2 separate regions of the Homo sapiens genome follow, and region 2 is linked to region 1. Evidence: fine-mapped expression QTL. Tissue or cell type: esophagus muscle. Region 1 holds a variant in brackets; the other region holds the start of a gene. All regions are shown on one strand. Distances are between the middles of the regions.

Region 1 (8,223 bases):
ATCAGAATCCTAGTAGGGCATGGTGGCTTATGGCTATAATCTCAGCACTTTGGGAGGTTGAGGCGGGAGGATCACTTGAGCCCAGGAGTTCAAGACCAGCCCGGGCAACATAGCAAGACCCCATCTCAAAAAATAAATTGATTCATTACAATTTAAATTTTAAAAAAATCAGAATCCTTTGAACAGTTCCAGACCTAAGCCAGTACTTAGACCTAAGCCAGTACTTAGACCTAAAACCAATGACTAGAGGAGAAGCCAAGACCCATGAAGAAAGACTCTGCAACAGTATGACAAACATATTCCAGTAACGATTTCCCTGGTCTTTCTCCTAAAGAACCTATGACCATTACTTAGATCACTATACTCTGGGGGAAAAAAGAATACTTAGATACATTGAAGACTGTTTGGCACAGGATCCATGTTGATGTTGACACCTAGGGATTGAAGCATCATCGTGGCCCCCTGTTAAACTTGAGGGGCATATGATGGACTGGTAATAATAGATTCCTGGATGAGATATGACTTATGGTGTTTCCCACTGGGTCCACAGACCCACTACTATGTGATCATTTCTCCAGTTCCTAAATGTAAAAGTGAAATGTATGTAATTCTTGAATATAAAAGTAGAATGTATATAAGTTCCTGAATATAAAAGAGAAATGTATATAATTGTATAAAATCATGCATGGAGGAGTGGTGGTCTCTCTTAATTTCCCCATGTAATTTATCATCTGACTCCCACAAAAACCAAATAGATCCTAGTGGATGGCAGAGAGACTACTGCAAAATCAACCAAGTAGTAGCCCCAATTGCAGCTGACATGTCCTATGTGGAAAATAACACAGTGACCCACTCTGTGATCATTTCTCCAGTTCCTAAATGTATAAGTGTAATGTACATAATTCCTGAATACAAAAGGGAAATGTATATAGTTGGTCATCGGCACAACTCCCACCCCTACCCCACTAGTTCCTTGGCTTGTGAGGAAAGAGGTGTAAGACCGAGGAGAAGCCCTTAAGCTGCTTCCCACCTTCTGGCCAAAAGCAACATTGCATCCTGGGGAGAAAAAGAAATGCCATCCTTAAAGACCTAATGCATGCAGGGGTGGTGATCGCTCTTCATTTCCCCACATAATTCATCATCAGACCCCTGCAAAAACCAAATGGATCCTAATGGATAGCAATAGACAATTGCAAAATCAACCAAGTAGTAGCCCCAATTGCAGCTGCTGTGTCATATGTGGAAAACAATGCATTCACTTGATATACACTGCATACCTAAGGTTCTGGGTCAGTCATTGTGAATGTCATTTTTCATTACTATCAGGAAAGAGGATCAGACATAGCTCATACTCACAGGGGATAACAAACTGTACACACCTACACTCTTTTCCAAGGCTATATTAACTTTCTTTCCTACTGTCATGACAGCCTTGAGGGACCTGGATCACGTGGACATTTCTCAGAGCACCACATTAGTCCACTATATCTGCATCAATGGCATTCTGTTAGTCAGGCCCTGAAATAGGATTACCTAACCATGGGACATAAAAAGAATGCCCATTATGAGATGGATTCTGTCAGAAACAACAATTCATAATGTATCAATCCGTCATATGATGAAGTAAGATATCTGGGATTGAGCATGAATCAGAGCAAATAAGTAAGCTGCCCAGGCAGGTGGCTCAGTACCCTTCGTCTTTTTCTTTCTTTCTTTCTTTCTTTCTTTCTTTTTTTGAGGAGTCTTGCTCTGTCACCCAGGCAGGAGTGCGGTGGCACAATCTCGGCTCACTGCAACCTCTGCCTCCCAGTTCAAGTGATTCCCCTGCCTCAGCCTCCCAAGTAGCTGGGACTAAAGGCGTGCACCACCACACCTGGTTAATTTTTGTATTTTTAGTAGAAATGAGGTTTCACCATGTAGGTTGGCCAGGCTGGTCTCGATTCCTGACCTTAGGTGGTCTGCCTGCCTCGGCCTCCCAAAGTGCTGGGATTACAGGTGTGAGCCACCATGCCCGGCCTTCAGTACCCTTCTTTATGTCATTTCCACGTTGGAAATTTCCATTTATTTTCCACTATGTCATTTTCCACTCAGCACCTATTTATCAGCCCCCACCTGTGGTCATATGTGGGGTTCTTTAGAAGGAGCTGATACAGCATGTTGCATAGATGGGTCAGTTTAGAATGTGGATGCAAGCCAAAATGGTCTGTGTCTGCACCACAGCCTCACTTAGAGGTGGTCTTGAAAGTGTGAGGTTAATTTCCCCAATGGCACAGCTTCAAGCAGTATACAGTCATCTAGTTTGTATGGAAAAAGAAATAGCCCAGACTGGGTCCGATGGCTCAAGCCTGTAATCCCAGCACTTTAGGACGCTGAGGTGGGAGGATCACGTGAGGCCAAGGAGTTAGAGACCAGCCTGGCCAACATGGCGAAACCCCACTAAAAATACAAAAATTAGCCAGGCGTGGTGGCTCACGCCTGTAATCCCAGCTACTTGGGAGGCTGAGGCAGGAGGATCATTTGATCCCGGGAGATGGAGGCTGCAGTGAGCCAAGATTGCACCACTGCGCTCCAGCACAGGCAACTGAGTGAGTACCTGTCTCAAAAAAGAAAAGAAAAAAAAAGGGAAAAAGAAATAGCCCAAATTAAGAATATACATGTGTAAAAGGACTCGTGGGCAGTCACAAATGCCTTGACTGGTTGGTCAGGGACCTGGATGGAAAACGATGGAAAGATCAGGGAAAATATTTCAGAAGAGGCAGACTGAATGGACATATTATGAGTGTGAGCACAAAGTTTGAAAATCTTTGTTTTTATTTGTCTGTTTTTTGCTCGTAGTGAACATGCCTGTTACAGAGACCAATGCTATGACTCCAAAACAGTGCTTTCTCCTGAGGAAAGTAATCAGTCACTTGATGGCAAGTTAACTAAATTGGACTCCTGACACCATGGAAGGGGCATCAAATATATTGATAAGAACTGACATATATTATGACTATTCATTTGCTTTTTTGCCACAGGGCTTTGACCAGTGCCATTATTTAGGGGCATATGAAGCATGATCACTATATATGAAATATTGCTTAACATCACTTTGGACCAAGGACCCACTTTAAGGCAAAAAAAAAAAAATGTGGCATTGGAACCTGAGTTTGGGATCCAGTGGTCCTATCATAAGCTGCACACCTTTGTCAGCTACTGACATGATAGTTAAGGAGGGACTTTTTGAAA[C/T]CACAGCTGAAGTGCTATCATAGAGTTTATACTCTAGGAAGAAAAGGTGCCATCCTCTAGGATACTGTATATATGCTAAAACAATGATCATTGTATGGTTCTCTATGCCTGTATAGAATGCATTGGTCTGGGAACTATGGGGTCTAAGTAGGGGTGACAAATGTAGGAAAGGTATGTTTCCCATTCTTGCAACTTAAGGATCTATGGATCTAGAGGTCCTGGCTTCCAGAGGGGTGATGCATCTGCCAGGGAATGCCAGAGTTCCATTAAACATTAAGCTACGGCTACTCCCCAGCCACTTTGGTCCCCTCATGCCCAACAGGCAAGGAAGAGAGTCACCACACTGGCAAAAGTTATTGACCGTGATCATCAGAAGTAGGCAGTGCTGTATACAATGCAGGGAGGGGAGATGTATTTGCACCTAGGTGGTCTTTTGGTATTTTCCAGCCCAGTTTTGGTGGTAAATGGGCAAGTACTGTAGCCATGACTCAAGAAGGGCATGGTGACCCAGGGCTCAAGTTCTTCAGGGATGAGTGTCTGTACTGTTCCACCAGCTAAGTCATCTAGACCAGCAGATGTGCTGGCTAAGGGTGAGAGGACCCTAGAATGAGTAGAAGCGGAGAGGGTGAAGAATTTCATTTGAGGCCTCAAAACCACCTGCAACTGCCAGAGACCTTAGTTTAATCCCATTAACTTTACTCTTATAAGCTTTCTCAGGAAAAAATAACCAGGATCCTGGAGTAGGTATTCCCACATGGGGTGAATTTTCTATATAAACAAAATGGATCTGGGCAGCACACGGTTGGGCCATACAGTGGCTATGCAGGTGGTGCACAAAATTCAGGCACTCATTCCCCACTTGCCAAGAGTGTTGGTTGCTGTCAGCTCAGTTTTTCCTCTCCCTTGGCTGGCCTTGGCTGAAGGAAACCACCATGCTCCATCCAGATGGTTATGCTCCATCTTCTAGGGCCAACTTTTTTCCAATAACTGTGCATGGGAACAAAGGCCCAAGTCTATTACCTAAATAGGGACAACTCTAAAAGGTCATCCCTGCTCCAGGGATCCCCAGAGAATCACATTGTACATCAGCTCTATTCTCTGAAGTTCGACTTCTCCCTCTGCCCAATACTGACCCCCAACTCCCTTCCAGATATTGTTCCCAAGACCATTCCCAACAAACTTCTGCATACAAGCCTCCATCTCAGAAACTGTCTCCTGAGGAAATTCACCTAAGACACATTGGCTCAAACTGGAAAGGAGTAATATTTCCTGACAAAAATTCACTTATTTTTGTCAGTCACTCTATTCACAGAGAAAGTCAACTGCATGAACACTATAGACATGATTTTTTCTACATGTATTCAAATAAATGAATGAACACTACTTTTCAACAAAATGATAAGACTATCATTGCCATTGTATTAGATCATTTGATTAATAAATGTTTCCTCTATAACAGATTCAGATATATTCCTACATTTTTACTGGTTTTCTTTAAAACCAAAACTTTGGTTTTCTATTGTAAATATACTTACTGGTCCTTATTGCTGCTGTTGTTCACATTAAAAAGTGCAATGGCACCAGGCAGGTACTGCTCCCTGGGAAATGAAAAACATGCAGTGAAATCACAGTAGTCACCATCTGTATAATGTCCATGGTAGGCAAATGGTCTGAAAAAACAAATTCTTCTCCATTTCTACTCATTACTAAAGACTATGTAGATGATAGATATTTCAAAAACATATTATGAAGCATAAAGCATAAAAGTATATCCTGAGCCTCCATGAAGCATGACTTGCCAAATGCCAGTGTCTTGAACAAACATAGTGATATGGTTTGGCTGTGTCCCCACCCAAATCTCATCTTGAATTATAGCTCCCATAATCCCCACATGCCACGGGAGGGACCCAGTGGGAAGTAATTGAATCATAGGGGTGGGTGTTGCCCATGCCATTCTCGTGCTAGTAAATAAGTCTCACAAGATCTGATGGTTTTATAAAGGGCAGTTCCCCTGCACATGCTCTCTTGCCTGCCACCATGTAAGACATGACTTTGCTCCTCCTTTGCCTTCTGCCATGATTGTGAGGCCTCCCCAGCCATGTGGAACTGTGAGTCCAGTAAGCCTCTTTTTCTTTATAAATTAACCAGTCTCGGGTATTTCTTCATAACATTATGAAAATGGACATGGTTAGTAAATGCATATCAGTCAATGTTCATACCAAGAATTAGCTTAAGTGAACCAACCTCAATGCCAGTAACTCCCAACAAGAAACCTAAGACTGTTAGGGAAAGTAAGATGAGGAGAAAAGCTAAATAAAAACAATGGGAAGGCTGGAGGTAGTCAATGGGAAGAAAAATAAGAAAAAGGAAAAAAAAGTAAAGAAAGAGTAATTATGTAAAACAGGTGGAAACCCCAGCTCCAACACCAATACCACACCACACCCCTTCTGCAATCTCAAGTCCGGTATCTGAAGTTTTCACAACTTCTTTATTTCCTACTAAGGATATTTTTGCTTTTCTCTTCTAGCACCTCTCTCCAGTGCTCTATTTCCTAAAAGTAGGACCAAAAGGGATGGAGCATTTTAGAGAATAACAGCCAACCCTCTCACATGTACTTGCTTCAGGACCCTGAAAGAAGGATCAGAGAGAAACAAGAAATCAGAAAGGACTGGGTTTCTTAAGGGACAGACCCCAGTGGGTCTCAGGGAAAATGAAGCAAGAGTGTTTACAACTTGGAACGCCATGGCCATAAATAATCATCGGGCAGTGGCAATATTTCCCAAGAGACGGCATGGGTAAGGAACAGAAGTAATTCCTCCTGAGATCCCACATTGTGTGTAGATAGCAGAGGCATTTGCCGAGCTTGCTCCGAAACAACAGTTTACAAACCCATTTATGCCTAGTGTTTGATTATTGGAACGCTAAGCATGTGGGAGTTATTTCTATCCTACTGCTCAAGGTCATCACCATGATCTGATTGCAAAAATTCAAAACACTGCAACCTTAAGCATAAATGGTTAAAAACAAGCACCAAGGGATGGATCATACTGCTCACCTCTGTGATGGTCCTCCCTTTCTGAGTGACTTATAACTAAAGGAACCCCTTGCATGAGGGTTTTCATTCTCTGATTCTTCAGATGTAGAGGCACTGTCATCATCCTCAGAAAAGGAGCTACAGTCCAATAGGAGGCAGAGAGAGAAGAGTTAATGTTTTCAACCACTGCAGAGAGGCAACATTCCTCACTAGGGGGACAATTGCCTCACCTCTTTTCCTTCCCTCTCAAACTAACACACATAACAATTTTTAGTTAGCATAAAGTTAGAACTATACAAAATACATAGAATTATATAAAATATGTGCATAATTCAGTAAAATGCATTTAACTAAGAAACTAGTTTCTAGGTTTTCCACATTCCTATTGTTTGATGCATTGGTTGATGTTAATATTTATCAAATAGCAAGTGTGATATCTGGGACTTAGATCATATTATACCTTTGTGTGAACTAGTTTTCTAACTAATGTTTCGTCCCACTAAAAGTAAATTCAACCACATTCATATACATTATATTCATTTATAGGGTAAGCACTTTAAATTATACTTTTAAATCACATTGCTAGCATTTCATACTCTGAGTACTTTTCATATGTATCTATGGCAATGTCATCTCTTTAGATTCAAAATGTCACTTGAGGAAAAGCCCTGCCATTGACTAAAGAAATGTTTGGCATAGGTGCTTAATAGATGCTTCCAAAAAAGTGACCACAATAATATCTATGTTCAGGCTGGGCATGGTGGCTCATGCCTGTAATCCCAACACTTTGGGAGGCCGAGGCAGGCAGATCACTTGAGGTCAGGAGTTCGTGACCAGCCTGGCCAATATGGCAAAACCCTGTCTCTACTAAAAATACAAAAAAAAAATTAGCCTGGTGTGGTGGTGCACACATGTAGTCCCAGCTACCTGGGAGGCTGAGGCAAGAGAATCACTTGAACCCAGAAGGCAGAGGTTGCAGTGAGCTGAGATTGTGCCACTGCGTTCCAGCCTGTGCAACAGAGTGAGACTCCATCTCAAAATAAATAAATAAATAAATAAATAAATAAATAAATAAATAAAATCTATGTTCATTTGTTAGACAAGTTATGCAGTTCCAAAGTGTAAATAAATTTGCTAAATACATTACAAAGTTCAAGGTTACAAATTATAAAGCTAAATTGAAATTAAATCTAGTTAAATTAAAGAACTGTAGCTAATAATAAAAATGCATGGGAAAATGTTTGGATTTACCTGCATGCTCCATTTTCCATCCTTCGTATTTCCTTTTCAATATCTGGTACAATCACATTGGGCATGGTTACAAAAGACTGCTGTGTATTGATAATATTGTTCTTCATGGATAGTTTCATATCTGAGGAGAAAGAAGTCTTATTAGTGGAAAGGCTATTTTTATATATTTACATATATAATCAAAAGTTTCACCCTATGTATTAGTCTGTCCTCATGCTGCTAATAAAGACATACCTGAGACTGGGTAATTTATAAAGGAAAGAGGTTTAATGGACTTGTAGCTCCACATGGCTAGGGGGAGCCTCACAATCATGGCAGAAAGCAAAGGAGAAGCAAAGACACATCTTACATGGCAGCAGGCAAGAGAGCTTGTGCAGCAGAACTCCCCTTTATAAAACCATCAGATCTCATGAGACTTATTCACTATCATGAGACTAGCATGGGAAAAACTCACTCCCATGATTCCACTGCCTCCCACTGAGTTCCTCCCATGACACATAGGGATTATGGGAGCCGCACTTTAAGATGAAGTTTGGGTGGGTACACAGCCAAACCATATCAACCCTACCATTTTTCTAAGACTATATAATACCATCTGTTTGCAGTTTTACATAGGAATTATTCTTTAATAGAATGCAGGCATGGCCTGTTCCCCTAATTTCCATTGACCAGTTTTTTGTAAAAAAATTTTTAATTTAAGAATGTACCAG
Region 2 (8,000 bases), 68 kb after region 1:
GATAACTGAGTGCTCTAATGGTAAGGAGAAATTAAGACCAGTTGGTCGTTAATCTTAACTTTAACCAAGACAAACCCCAATTCAGTTACTTACCTAGGGACGAGTCTCTGGCTATAGACTGCTCTCTACCATTCAAGAAGCAGGAAAAACAAAACAAAACAAAAAAAAAAACACTCCTTTTCCCTGTTGGAAGTGAGCCAAACTCCAACGTCATGGAAACAGAAAATTTGTCTTTCTTGATAGAAGCAAGTAAAACTCCAAAAAAGAGAAGTTGTACAGCAAAATAAACTTTAGATCTTGACCAAATTTGGGGAAATCAGGGATTCTCTGGAGGGGGTGCTCTCAGACCTCAGCAAATTGTCCTATTGGTTTGAGCTGTAAAATTAGCTCATGCTGGTACCAAGCACTGATAAGAGGTTTGCCAAAGGTCAGGGGCATCTCCACTCAGAATCCCTCTGTGGTTACCAAAATGTGAACCCCAAAAATTTGAGACAGGTCTCAGTGAATTTACAGTTTATTTTGCCAAGGTTGATAACACAACCCCATGACACAGCCTCAGGAGGTCCTGATGACATGTGCCCAAGGTGGTCAGAGCACAGTTGGGTTTTATACATTCTAGGGACACATGAGACATCAATCAACATATGCAAGATGAACATTGGTTCTGTCTGGAAAGACGGGACAACTCAAAGCAAAGGCAGGAATACTGGAACCAGGGACGGGGCTTTCCAGGTCATAGGTAGATAAGAGACAAATGGTTGCATTATTTTGAGTTTCTGACTAGCCTCTCCAAAGGAGGCGATCAGATATGTCAGTGAGCAGAGGTGTGAGTTTGAATAGAATGGGAGGCAGGTTGGCCCTAAGCAGTTCCAAGCTTCACTTTTCCCTTTAGCTTAGTGATTTGGGGGCTCCACTATTGATTTTCTTTCACAACTCAATAACCCAGGAATAATTAAGGGAAAGGCAAGATGGAGGATGAATTACTCAGCTTACTGTTAAAATTTTCTCAGTGATATAATTTTTGCAAAGGTGGTTTCTACTCCCCAGCTACCACCCCTCTTGTCTAGTCATCTTATTCCTTGCCCCAGAAACCACAGACCTCCCTACAATGTAGCAACTCAGGGGTTAACCTTGACACACCAGGAACCCTCCCAGACCTCCCCAAGCTCGAAAGACCTGTGGCCTTGTCCCTTGAGGCCCTAAGGCTCTACTAATCATTATTTATTTTGACCATCACCCCTGGGTCTAAGTGTCCTAGCACAAAGACCAATAAAACAGAAGTTGGCATTTTAGAGGGTCTCAGTTATTATCGCATTCTAATTTTTGAGTCAGAAGAGTAATTTTCCTAGAATCAAAGAATGGGCTAGTTGGAGATTTTTTTAATGCTCTTCTTTTAGTTAAACAAACAACATGATTTTGCGGGGGAATAAATATCCCCCAACTTTATGTCATTAAAGACAGTGTGTGGTACTATAACGGTATTCCCCAAAGTCATCTAGAAATTATCAATGAAGGAAAATACATATTATAAATTTCTGCTAGGCAACATTTAAACTGGAAAAGCAGTGGTCTTAAATGAGTTTAAATATTTTTTTTCTGAATTTTTTCTCTTTATTTTCAGAATTGAAAAGCAAGAACTACAACAAAATGCCTCTTACCTAAAGTAGACCTTAATATGCAACTGAAATTCAATAAAGATACATTTTTTAAAGTCTGTTTTGTTTTTTAATGTCCAATTACCAAATGGGTTAAGAGCACATACTTGAAGCCCAGCTTTCTTGGTTAGCATCTTGGTTCCACACTTACTGGTTATGTGTGCATAGGCCAGTTACTCAATCTTTGTGTGCCTCCATTTCCTCAGCTGTAAAGTGGGGGTAGTAGTATCTACCTTACAGGATTTTCATGAAGATTTATAAAGCAAATATTTACAAAGAGATTAGAATAGTGCTTGCCACATAGTAAATGCTATCCAAGTGTTTGTTAAATAAAAAATAAGCACCATAGATCACGTTTACCATCATTACTAATTTTTGATAAAGACAAAATTTTAAGTTGGAAATCCAAAGAAAACGTTTAAATAGAAGTCTAAGTTTTGGGCCGGGCTAGGTGGCTCACGCCTGTAATCCCAGCCCTTTGGGAGGCCGAGGTAGGCGGATCACGAGGTCAGGAGATTGAGAGCATGCTGGTTAACACGGTGAAACCCCATCTCTACTAAAAAAAAAAATACAAAAAATTAGCCGGGCGTGGTGGGGGGCGCCTGTAGTCCCAGCTACTCGGGAGGCTGAGGCAGGAGAATGGCGTGAACCCAGGAGGCGGAGCTTGCAGTGAGCCGAGATCGCGCCACTGCACTCCAGCCTGGGCGACAGAGCGAGACTCCGTCTCAAAAAAAACCAAACCAAGCCAAACAAACAAACAAGCAAACAAAAAGAAGTCTAAGTTTTAAGGCTTGTTATGGAAAATTGGCATAAATCTCCCTCGCTTTCAACTTTCACCTATTCCACTCTCCGTGGTGTTCCTTCTCTGCAAAGTCATCCATATGTATTATAAAAGTGGGTGCCTTGGACTGGTATGTTGACTAATTTGTTCTTAGCTCTTCTCTCATCCGCCTAAGAACAAGAAAAACAAGATTGAGGCCTCTGCTATGAAACTCTTAGGTAATAAAATTAATAGCACTGTTCATGCCTACTTAGAACAAAGGCTACCTGAGTACATGAGAATATTTTCCTCAGTGTTAAAATGCCAGAGCACAAAGGCACCCCAGTTCTCCCTGGTGAGGGTTTGAGCCCGAATTGTTCACTACCCCACCCCTCACCTTTTTTTTTCTTGAGACAGGGTCTCACTCTGTTGCCTGGACTAGAGTGCAGTGGTTCGATCATGTCTCACTGTAGCCTCCACCTCCTGGGCTCAAGTCATCCGTCCTCCCACCTCAGCCTCCTGAGTAGCTGAGACTACAGGAGTACACCACCACATCTGGCTAATTTTTGTAGAGACAGGGTTTCACCATGATGCCCAGGCTAGTCTCGAACTTGTGGACTCAAGAGAGCCACTCGCCTCAACCTCCCAAAGTGCTGTGATTACAGGGGTGAGCCACCCGCCAGCCCTGCCCACTCCTTGTTTTGTAAATACCTGCTATCAGGTCTTCCAACCTTGGTTTGGTTACTTAACCTCACTCTTTGCCTCTAATCCCTCATCTGTAAACTGAGCGTTAATAGACTGCTGTGAGATTTAATTAATACATAATGTGCCTGCATATGTATGGTATAACAAGGATATCATAAACATTAGTTATTAATAATTCGTGGAAATAAGTCTTTCCAGTTTTGGCATTGCTTTTCCCTTAAAGGTTTATTTCAAATACCCCTATGACCCAGAAAATGGGGCAGGGTAGGGGGAGTTGCCTGCTGGAGACAGAACGGAGAGTGGATGGATATAGCGGGCGTGGACGGACAGCGACAGAAGCTGATAACAGCACAGAAGGGCAAAGTCTGCTCAGCAGCCCCCAAAATAAACTTGAGCCTGGCAATCGGCGCAGAACCCCAGCAGTCAGCAGCTTCGGTGCAAAGCAACTAACACCTGAAGGCTTCCAAAAGCAGCAGGGCTCTCTCTAGCGGGGGAGCCTTTTCGACCAGAGAGGAGCCAGAAGGGGGCCTCAGTGCAGCCTCCACTCCACTCAATTCCCGGAGTTACCTTGGCGGGCTCCACGCTCCGAGAGACGCTGTTGCTCTATGAGGCGTGTCTGTGTTTCTCTAGTTCGCGGCTCCAGCAGTCGCGCCAAGGGGCAGCTGCTACTCCTGCCAGATACACCAGTTATCACAGGCCGCTCCCAGGCCTGCGGGGGCCCTGAGAATTCGCAACAAGCCCCGGGCAGCAGGGCTCGGCTGGCGCTGAGGCCCCGCCTGGCCATGCCCATTGGCGGAGGCTGCCCCGGGGGCGGGGTCAGGGCGCCCCATTCCCAGACCCCGCAGCCCCGCCCGCCGCGGGTGCGTGTGGAGAGGCCCAGGTGAGGAGCAAGCGCCCGCGTTCCGGAAGCCCGCTCCCGGGGCCATGGGGGCACAGGTGAGGCTGCCGCCCGGAGAGCCCTGCCGAGAAGGTTTGTGTCTGCCCTGAGCCGAGGGACCTGGCAGCTGGGTGGCGAAGAGACCGGGTGGGCGGTCCCCGGACACTTGCGGAGACTGGAAAGGGGGGCTGTACCGACTCTAAACGTAGTCGTTCACTCATTCATTCATTCAGTCAGTCGGCCGTCCAGCCAGGCGTTCAACACTTATTTATGGGTGCCTAGGCGATTCGGGCTGTGCTGGAAAACCTGAGTGGAATAAGGCAGGTGGGACTCCCACTCGATTCGCGAGGCCGACCAGTGTAAATTACCGCGTGCTGCGTGTGGGACGGGGAAACTCAGGATGCTATGGGAAGAATCCCGAGTCCCTCTGAGAAGGACGTTTCCTCTGACTCAGGCTCCCTTCCAGAGTCTGCGGCCGACGTCACCCGGTGGGCAGAGGGCGTGTCTGCCTGGGGGGCCCGTGGGAGTTCTGCGCTGCGCCCTGCGCTGGCTCCCGGGGATCGAGCACCGCGAGAGGTTGGGCGCCCGGGGCCGCGGGGGTGGGCGTTGGGCAAGTCTGGGCCGCCCACGTCTCTCCTCTTCCTTGGAAATGAAAAGGTCTCCAAACCCATGAGCCTGTCTGACTCGCTGTGCAGTCACTCTGGCTGCTTAAGGCGAGAGCCGTACTGGAGAGGAAACCTGGAACCGGGAGCACTCGTTTGCAGGCTCTTCTTACTGCTTCTCACCTGAGCCCCGTGAAATCTCTGGGCGAGGCTCCTTGCCCTTCGCCAAGTGTTCGCAACACTGGCGGGTTTTCTGCAGTCTCCATACAGAAGGCCCCGATAAAAGTAGGGAAGGGGGTAGGGGGAGCGACTGGAAGGATGTAGATACATTGAAATGATGGTTTTCGCCGTACCAAGGGGAAAGCAGCTTTTTAATTTACCTGATAATGCAGTAAAGGGGAAGGGAGGCAGTGAAAGGCATGGTAAGAACTACTATATATATACACATATATATATAGTTCCCTTACACATATATATATATATATATGTATATACATATACACCTTTGCAAAGGTGCTCGCAACTTCCCTAGTTTCCTCTCCTCTTGACTCTTCCAGCTTATTCCTTTTTAACAAGTGAGCTCGTCCAAACCATGCTAGCAAGGAAGAGAAGGGACACCAAAAAAAGGAGAAAAATGCCTGAACAATTCACAAGCTATTAAAAAAAATTTTTTAAGGCCGCTGGATCTAGAATTATTTTCTAGTCTTTTTTTCTGAAAAAGAGCAATAACGCCTGAACAACTCACAAACTATTAAAAAACAAAAATTTTAAGGCAGCTGAATCTAGAATTATTTCCTAGAGAGTCAGGTTGTGTGCCCTTTTTCTAAATAATTTCTAACCCAGCAAATCTGACAGTTACTAACACACCCACACTTGTTTACCCAAGGATCTGTAAGTAAGGAAGGTATATGAATTACACCCACTTGTTTGAGCTTCTGGATGTTTTTCCTGCTTTGCTTATGCATTGAGTTCCAACAAGAAACATTTAAGCTCCAGGCTTAATACCTGTGATTAACCATGGTAATTAATTGTGTGAAAAGCTGGTGAGAAAGACTTAGAAATCTGAATGCACGTTATTAGTAGTGGGAAGAGATTAGGCTTTGGCATCAGACAGTCTGAGCTGTAACTTAGCTTCCTTGAGCATTTTCCTGTCTATAAATTGGGGGTCATCCCTCCAGTTTACAGTTCTGAAGAGTAGGTGCAGGTGGGATTACATATGAACTACACCACTCAGAGCTTGACATGGAGTAAACAAAGACTCAATTTTTCACTTGTTCATTCAAATAACAAGAGTCCCATGTGCCAAGCACTGGCATAGGTGCTGGGATAGAGGGATCTGCAAGACAGTCTGGTCCCAGACTCTAGGACTAGGTTCCTGCTCTCAGGCACCTTACTGTTCAGATGGCAGCTACTATGCAAGAAACAAAGTAATTTAAAAGATCATTATAATAGCAGTAATGTATCAAGAGTGTTGGGATGTTTAGATTGGGTATTCAATGAAAGCCCCTTACGAAAGTGATATTCAAGCTGAGACCCAAATGACAAGGGGTCAGTCATGAGATCTGAAGATAGAACATTCCAGTTGAACTTCCATGAAGAAAAAGTTAATTTCATACTTTGGTTTTGACTTTTTTTTGTTTTTTTGAGGCGGAGTGCCACTCCGTCACCCAGGATGGCATGCAGTGGTGCAATTTCAGCTCACTGCAACTTCCACCTGGGTTCAAGCAATTCTCCTGCCTCAGCCTCTCAAGTAGCTGGGAATACAGGCACATGCCACCATGCCCAGCTAATTTTTGTATTTTTAATACGGGTTTCACTGTGTTGACCAGGCTGGTCTTGAACTCCTGACTTCAAGTGATACTCCTACCTTGGCATCCCAAAGTGCTGGGTTTACAGGCATGAGCCATCCCCCACCCCACATTGGTTTTGACTTTTAAAGCTATAGATGCTTCAAAAGAGTCTCTAATCCAAAATTATCTTTAAAAGAAACAAATGCAAATATGTATGAAGGTTGTTATAAAGCTGTAATTAAGCCATATGAGGAAGTCTATTTGATTGGGAACATATGATGGAAAGTGACTGAGAGGTTCCTTTAGATTGGGAAGGCAGGAAAGGCCTCTCTGAGTTGCTTAGTCCTCTCACTCAGAAGAAGCTAGCTATGCCAGCCAGCACTCTGTAACAGGCTCAGGAACAGCTGCTTTTTAAAAAGCTTAAGGTGAGAAGGAACTTATTCTATGAAAGGAACAGAAGAAAAGGCAATAGTAGGGAATGAGGTTAGGCAGCTGGAGACAGGATTCCACAGGGCCTTATAGGCTATAGTGGGAATTTTGGATTTTTTTCGGAATGAGAAGGGAAGCCCTTGTGGAGTTTTGGAAGGAGGAATGACAAGATCAGACCTACTTGTCTAAAGGTTCATTTCACCTGATCCTTCTCCCACCTACTCTTTAGCCACATCTCATACCATCTCCCTTTCTGTCACCCCAGGCAACCTGGCTGACTGCAGTTTCTTCAACCCCTCAGGGTTTCTGCTTTTAGACTTAGCAGAGAGGCTCTTTTGTTTAATCCTGTTTTAAAAAATATATTCCTTGATGCTGCTTTTACTACTTGCTATGGCACTCTTAACATACGTATAGTTATTTGTTTGTTAATCCTATCTGCCCCCACTGGAATATAAGAGAGCGGGACCATTGTTGTATTCATTTTTCTATCTCCAGATTCTAGAAAATGCCCAACAGGTAGTACACCATACATATTTGTTGAATGAAGGAAAAGAAGATTAGTGTTTCAGAGAGGGGTGAGAGGGAGAGTAATGCAATATGATGTCAGAGACGAGCCAGTTTCAGAGCATGAGAAGCTTTAAAGTTCAAAGTTAGTGAGGAGTTGAGATTTTGTTGTAAGTTGAGATGAAAAACCATGACAGGGGACAGGGAGTATTAAGCCAGGGAGTGATATAACCTACTTCCCACTGGTTAGCGTTTGGAGAATAAATTGTAACAGATATAAAGAGATTTCATTCAGTCATTCCCATGCTAATATGAATAGGCAGGTATATCACATATTCTTGCTTAGGTTTCTAGGTCAGCTGAAGGTTGACTGATCTAGATGGGGCTCACCTATATGTCTCTGCTTCAGGCTAATGTCCACCTGGGTTTGGCTCCTTCATGTGGGATGAGCTCAGATCTGCTCCATGTGTCTTCATTTGGGTGCAGAGGCTGAAGGGACAGCAGCTCCTCAGGGAATTACAGAGATGCAAATGAGTAAACCCAACCACATAAGCATCTTTGAAATCTAGCTTCATATCACTTCTGCTGACTTCCCATTGGCCACCAACTTACTTCCAGCCCAACATCAGGTGAAGCACCTTTGCCCACATTGGGAAAGGTAAGGGGCTGAATACTGAA

The links. PIP is the estimated chance that this variant, and not a neighbour inherited with it, causes the effect.
Region 2: it holds the start of CNGA1, and the variant in region 1 is fine-mapped to the expression of CNGA1 in esophagus muscle (GTEx, PIP above 0.99). The same link has a PIP of 0.9 or more in aorta, breast, lung, sigmoid colon, subcutaneous fat and sun-exposed skin.

Annotation. Positions count from the first base shown.
Region 1 is chr4:47,945,070-47,953,292 of GRCh38, forward strand. It overlaps CNGA1 (cyclic nucleotide gated channel subunit alpha 1), which reads right to left. Exons shown (of 11, transcript NM_001379270.1): 4 at 7,514-7,634; 5 at 6,284-6,400; 6 at 4,764-4,826. The coding sequence starts at 7,620. The region is part of intron 1 of LOC101927157 (a long non-coding RNA gene); the gene reads left to right. Among named protein-coding and RNA genes, the nearest start is that of NFXL1, 35 kb to the left of the region's middle. The variant C/T (reference allele first, on the strand shown) is at 3,229.
Region 2 is chr4:48,012,796-48,020,795 of GRCh38, forward strand. CNGA1 (cyclic nucleotide gated channel subunit alpha 1) reads right to left here and starts at 3,886. Exons shown (of 11, transcript NM_001379270.1): 1 at 3,688-3,886. It overlaps NIPAL1 (NIPA like domain containing 1), which reads left to right and starts at 3,977. Exons shown (of 6, transcript NM_207330.3): 1 at 3,977-4,090. The coding sequence starts at 4,045. RefSeq lists an enhancer at 3,567-4,068 and silencers at 3,833-4,162, 4,453-4,612.